2 separate regions of the Homo sapiens genome follow, and region 1 is linked to region 2. The links come from fine-mapping of genetic effects on gene expression. Tissue or cell type: whole blood. Region 2 holds a variant in brackets; the other region holds the start of a gene. All regions are shown on one strand. Distances are between the middles of the regions. Region 1 holds the start of TMEM176A (transmembrane protein 176A). Region 2 holds the start of LOC105375566 (a long non-coding RNA gene).

Region 1 (2,714 bases), 20 kb before region 2:
TTAACCGCTAAAACCCCAAAAAGAGAGGGAGAGGTAGAGAGAGAGAGAAAGAAAGAAGAGAAGAGAAGAGAAGAGAAGAGAAAAGGAGAAGAAAGAGGAGGAGAAGGAGAAAGAAGAAGAGGCAGGAGGAGGAGAAAAGAGAAGGGAAAGGAAGGAGAGGAGAGCCGGCCCATCCTGAGTTTGGCCCAGAGGAAAGGATGGACTCAGGGCTCCACTGATTGGGACTCTGCATGGTCAGTGGCTCCTCCACACCCCTTCAGCCCAGAGCCTCCCCTCCCCAGGCTCTTACTGAGAAGGCCAGAGAATCACATCGCTAAGTAAGAAGACATAACTGGCTCGGTGTCCTGTTCAGAGGGAGGCTGGCAGAGAGTGCTGCTGCGGCTGGAGGTGGGGAGTTCCTCCCGCCGCCCGACGAGGCAGGCCGTCACACTCACCCACGAGGCCACCAGCAGCCGGCTGCTGCCCCTGGCCTGGGTGGCCCGGGGCCGCAGCGCAGAGCAGCAGGTGAGCAGGAGCTTGGCCAGGGCAGACTCCTGGTGGATGTGCACATCGATGTGGGTGTGCTGTGGGGCCTCCGGGGCCATCTCATCACTGTCGGCTGTTCCCATTGTCAGGGACACAGTCTATGAGGAAGGGAGCACCAGAGAGGAACGGCTGTCAGAAGATTTTCGCAGATTTCATTGGAGTTGGGGAGGTCAGGGGCCAGTGGTGGCTCAAAGTCACCCAATGAATGGCTGTCCTGGTCACAGGGCCGCACCCCTGGCCCCTCACGAGGGGAATGTGTGTAGCAGAGGGGGTGCTGACCATGCTGGAACTGCGGCGACTACAGAGCCTGCGGGAACCTCCCCTTTCGCCCAAGATCTGCTCTGTCCCCCTCATCCTCCTCCCAGGGCCCTGGCGTCTGGGTCAAGCAGCGCCCCACACCTCGACCCCTCACCCCCTCCTCCCGGGCTCTTCCTGCGGCCTCCCCTCCACAGTCCGCAGGCTCTGGGACAGGACCGAGTCCTTGGCTGCCTGTGGAGCTCCTGTGCCAGCAGCTGCGCCCCGGCTGCGCTCCGGATACCCCCATCCCCGCCACCGCCGACCTCCCGCTCCACCGACTGCTGCTCACGCCCGACGGGTTCACGCCGCCCCTGCCCCGTGAAGGACCGCGCTGCGGTGCGGAGGTAGGTCAAAAGCCGGGGCCGCACCTGGCTTCCTCTGCAGTCCCCTTCCTGGAGTGTCATCCCTGGGTGGGGGTCCCTCCTACGCTCCTCCAACTGTGCGGAGGCAGCTCGGGGTGCGTGCGGAAGGAGGCCCGGGGGCCGCCGGGAGTGGGGTGCCGCCTCACCTGCGCTCCTCGGGACCTGCGAGCGGGCGGCGGGAGGGCTGGGGCGCTGGCTGGAGAAGTGGGTTGAGAGTTGGAGGGGGAGGCGGGGAGGGGAGGCGGGGGTGGGGCTGAACTTCAGCCCCTCGGGTTCATGACAGGCTGCAGGGCCTGGGGTCCGTCTGGGGTTCTCCTGCTGCGCGAGGGTCACTGGGCTCTGGGGAGCTGGGAGGGTCCGCGGGCGGACGGCCCTGGGAAAGCCCGTGGGGTCGTTCTCGCCTCCAGCCCCGCCCGGCCAGGGCCGGCGTGCAAGTGTGCGCGAGTGGGAGCGCAGGGGGCGCGCGGGGGCTCGGTCTTCTCCCGCCCGGTCCGCTCCTCCGGGCGGAACCCCCTTTGCCGGGCCCCCGGGCCGCAGCTGGTTTCGGGAAACCGCGCAGCCTGGGCGGGGCCGCAGCCCCCACCCGTGCATCTGCCGTCTCCGCCCTCCCGTCGCTCCCCTGCTCGGGGTCAGCTAGTGTCCGCTCTGCTCGGCCGCGGGCTCCCGGAGGACTGCAGGTGAGGCAGGGCCTCCGCGGCCCGGGAGACCCTCTTGCCGCAGGACCCTCTGTCACGAGGAGTCCCCAGGGCCATGCCCCCACCCCGTCCTGTCCACAGGACGTCTTTCTTCCTCCAACCTGGTTTCCAGGAGGACTCACGTAGGAGGGAGGGACAGCTGGGTGCAGGTGTTTCTCCCCAGAAAAACGGCTGGAGAGCGGGAGGAGAGGCCTGGGGCTGGCGCGTCCCGTCCACCTTCTGCCGCCTGCACGCCTGGACCCTGGCTGGAGCCCTACGGTGGGGTGGCTCCTGGGACGGGGCCAGGGAGCGGCGGGGCTGCCGGACGCTTTCCCCAGCCCCGGGGCACGGGAAGAGCTGGACAGAGGAAAGTGTTCGGGGCAGCCGGGAAGAGCCCACCACCTACCAGGCGTCGGGCGGCCCGCAGGGGAATCTCCGTGGTGCCGGCCTGGTTCAGATCCGACTCTTCAGGCGGGGGCGAGGCAGATCTAGGGGTTGGCGTGGGGCGGGGGAAGCGGTGGTCCTGGGGGCCCGGAGGTAGCTGGAACCCGAGGTGCCCTCAGGGCGAGGCCTGGGCCGTCAAGGGAAGGTCTGGCTGGAATCTGGGGCTGGGCTGGAAGCAGTCTGAAGCTCCTTTGTACGTGTGCGGAATTGTCTAACTCCTGTCCTTTCTAACCCCAAGGAGGCCAGGTGGGTGAAAGAGTGAAACTGCTTTGAAAAGTAGGTAGAGTACGAATGGGAGGTGTTATTAGAATTGTTAATAATATTTGATTTAAACTGTGATACTTAGCCAGGATGTCCATTAGAATTGCCTATGCAGGATTTATTTTAGAGCCAGGCAAGCTGATTCTAAAGT
Region 2 (3,026 bases):
AGGAGCCAGGAACCCCAGGAGATGGGCCTTGCCCTTCTTCAGCAAAGGTAGGGCTAGATGCCTCTTGTTACAGTTCCTTCTAGAGCATTTTGTAACTGGGAATGTGTGGAATTGGGGGTGGGTGGGTGAGAAGGATGAATCCTGACTACTGAGCTAGGGATAAAGGGCAAAGGACACTGAGCAGGCTCTTGTAATAATCCAGGCAAGCACTGATGTGCTTTGGACCATGATGGTGGCAGTGGAAGTAGCAAGAAGTGATTGGATTCTCAATATATTTGGGCAGCAGAACTTACAGGGTTCCCAAACAGGATGAATGTGGGTTGTAAGAAAAGAAGGGGAGCAAAGGACAGCTTCCAAGTTTTTGTTTCAAAGTATTGTTAATTACCAAGACATGGAAGACTATGGAGGGAACATTTTTAAATGACAGAAAACAGGAGTTCAATTTGGGGCATGTTAAATATGAGAGGATTTTTAGAGATCAGGTTGAGATGTTGAGAAGGCATTTGGACATGTTAGCCTGGAGTTTAGGAGCATTTGGTATATATAAACTTGGAAGTCAGCAATAAATTGTAATGGCAAACAAATCCTCCTGCCTTGTATACACAAGAGAGATATTAGGGGGAGTTGGGAGGACAGCTTCTAAATATTTGTTGGATGAATCAATAAATGGAATGAATTATTTTTTCCAGCTGTACATGGAGTTTGTTTAAGCCGTTTGTATTGAACAGTTTGCAATGTGATCAACAGGACATATTTGGGGAATAATCGAGTAGGCCAGTGGTTCTTGGTGTGAGCTGGGAGAACTTTTGCAATTGGAGATGTTGTGAAATCCTCTAGGGACTTTCTCAAGTTACACCACCATTCTTGGTTGAAATTGTTGTGGTGGGGAAATTTTTTTTGAGAACCATCGAGTTAGTGCTAGCATAGAATCTAACAAGAAATGGCCCTGCATCCATTCTCTTTTCTTCTAATAACAGCCCCAGATTTCCATTTTTGGACCTACCTTTTCCTTTTTATCAGGCTAAGTGTTCATGGTGGGGCTCTGTCCTTAGTTCCAGGGATAAAGCCTGTGACCCAAACTTAAACCGCAGATCATTTTCCCCAGGCCATGGAGATTGTTTCAAATGTGGGCACATGGCCTGAATGGGTCATATCAGAGTAAATCTTAGGGCTTCTGGGTTATGCCACCATCACAGGCTCTTGCTTTCCTCACTGAACTTGAACCTAGACGGATGTAAGCTGGAGCTGTGGCAGCCATCATTGCCCTGTGAAAAGTCCACTTGGAGCTGCCAAAGACCACCCCAGGAGCTTCAGAATGAAGACAACCTGGAAGTCAGAGCTGACAGGTGAGAAACAACAAACAACTCACACCTGATTGTATTGCTTGAATTCTGAATTCAGCAGTGCTTGAAGCCAGATTGAGTCCTGACCATTTTAGTATACGATCATTAAGCAATCTTTTGCTTACGACATGTGC[G/A]GTTGAAAGAGTCCCAATTATAATAGGCTGAGAGACTAGGTATAGTAACTAGCACTTAAGTGGGTTGTCTAGGCTGTAGGCCCCAGATATTTAGGAGCTGCACTCAGAGGCTCCTGAGCAAGGTATGTGTCTGGGGTGACCCCAAGTGCACTTGCCAATCTGAACTGTGAGGAAATACCATGTAATGGGGGAGAGGAGAGTGTGGCAGGCATTCAGATACTTTGGGGAAACTCACTTCAAGCAAGTGTTCTGTTCCTTAAAAAGCTGCATATAAACTCAAGTTTTGCAAATGTATATGTACATTTATATATACATATACATAAAATGTATATGTACATTTATATATACATATACATAAAATGTATATGTACATTTATATATACATATACATAAAATGTATATGTACATTTATATATACATATACATAAAATGTATATGTACATTTATATATACATATACATAAAATGTATATGTACATTTATATATACATATACATAAAATGTATATGTACATTTATATATACATATACATAAAATGTATATGTACATTTATATATACATATACATAAAATGTATATGTACATTTATATATACATATACATAAAATGTATAGTTTATTTGTCTTAGATAATTCACTCTGTAGACAAAATCCAGGTGGAGTAACAGTGCCTGTGAACACTGGATCCCCAAGAGTCTATCTTAATGTCGGTGCTAGAGAAACAGAATCAAATCAGAATTCTAGATCCCATTTACGTCTTAATACCTGCACTCTGCAGCTGAAAAAAGCATGAAGAGGCTATTTATGTACTCATCTCATTAAAAAATAAAAGCAAGGCTGGGCGCGGTGGCTCACACCTGTAATCCCAGCACTTTGGGAGGCTGAGACGGGTGGATCATGAGGTCAGGAGTTTGAGACCAGCCTGACCAACATGGTGAAACCTGTCTCTACTAAGAATACAAAAATTAGCTGGGCGTGGTGGCGCACACCTGTAATCCCAGCTACCCAGGAGGCTGAGGCAGGAGAATCGCTTGAACCTGGGAGGTGGAGGTTGCAGTGAGCTGAGATTGTGCCACTGCACTCTAGCCTGGGTGACAGGGCAAGACTCCATCTAAAAAAAAAAAAAAAAGCAAACACAACTCAGTGAACTCAGTGTGTAGAGTGTGCTATGATTTATTTTAAAAGTGCGGGTAGTGGTGGTGGGGAACAGTATGGACATTTCTGCTGTAACATTTATATATTGCTGAAAAATCTTGCATTCCTTAAATATTTCATGTTAAAAACAACAGACTTATGAGAGAGTTATGGTTGGATCACGTTGTTGAAAATTAGTGCTTTGTGAAGAGCGCTAACAAAAGCAAAAAACCAGTCTTAATACAGATATTAGTACAATGAGAAGACAAGTTAAATTTCTTATAAATGTAGAAACACTGTAATAAAAAAGAAAAAAGAAACCTCTTTACTTTTAGAAATAAGGTGAAGTTAGCTTGAGGAAAGAGCTGTAAGGAAGAGTGAAGTCAGCTGAGTCAAGGACACAAGCGGAAAATGTGCA

What was found.
Region 1: it holds the start of TMEM176A, and the variant in region 2 is fine-mapped to the expression of TMEM176A in whole blood (INTERVAL, PIP above 0.99).

The regions. Positions count from the first base shown.
Region 1 is chr7:150,799,445-150,802,158 of GRCh38, reverse strand. It overlaps TMEM176A (transmembrane protein 176A), which reads right to left and starts at 1,390. Exons shown (of 7, transcript NM_018487.3): 1 at 1,331-1,390; 2 at 435-623. The coding sequence starts at 608. TMEM176B (transmembrane protein 176B) reads left to right here and starts at 1,795. Exons shown (of 7, transcript NM_001101312.2): 1 at 1,795-1,861. RefSeq lists enhancers at 699-1,398, 1,399-2,098, 2,099-2,714.
Region 2 is chr7:150,779,003-150,782,028 of GRCh38, reverse strand. It overlaps LOC105375566 (a long non-coding RNA gene), which reads left to right and starts at 900. Exons shown (of 4, transcript XR_928163.2): 1 at 900-1,346; 2 at 2,944-3,026. The variant G/A (reference allele first, on the strand shown) is at 1,478.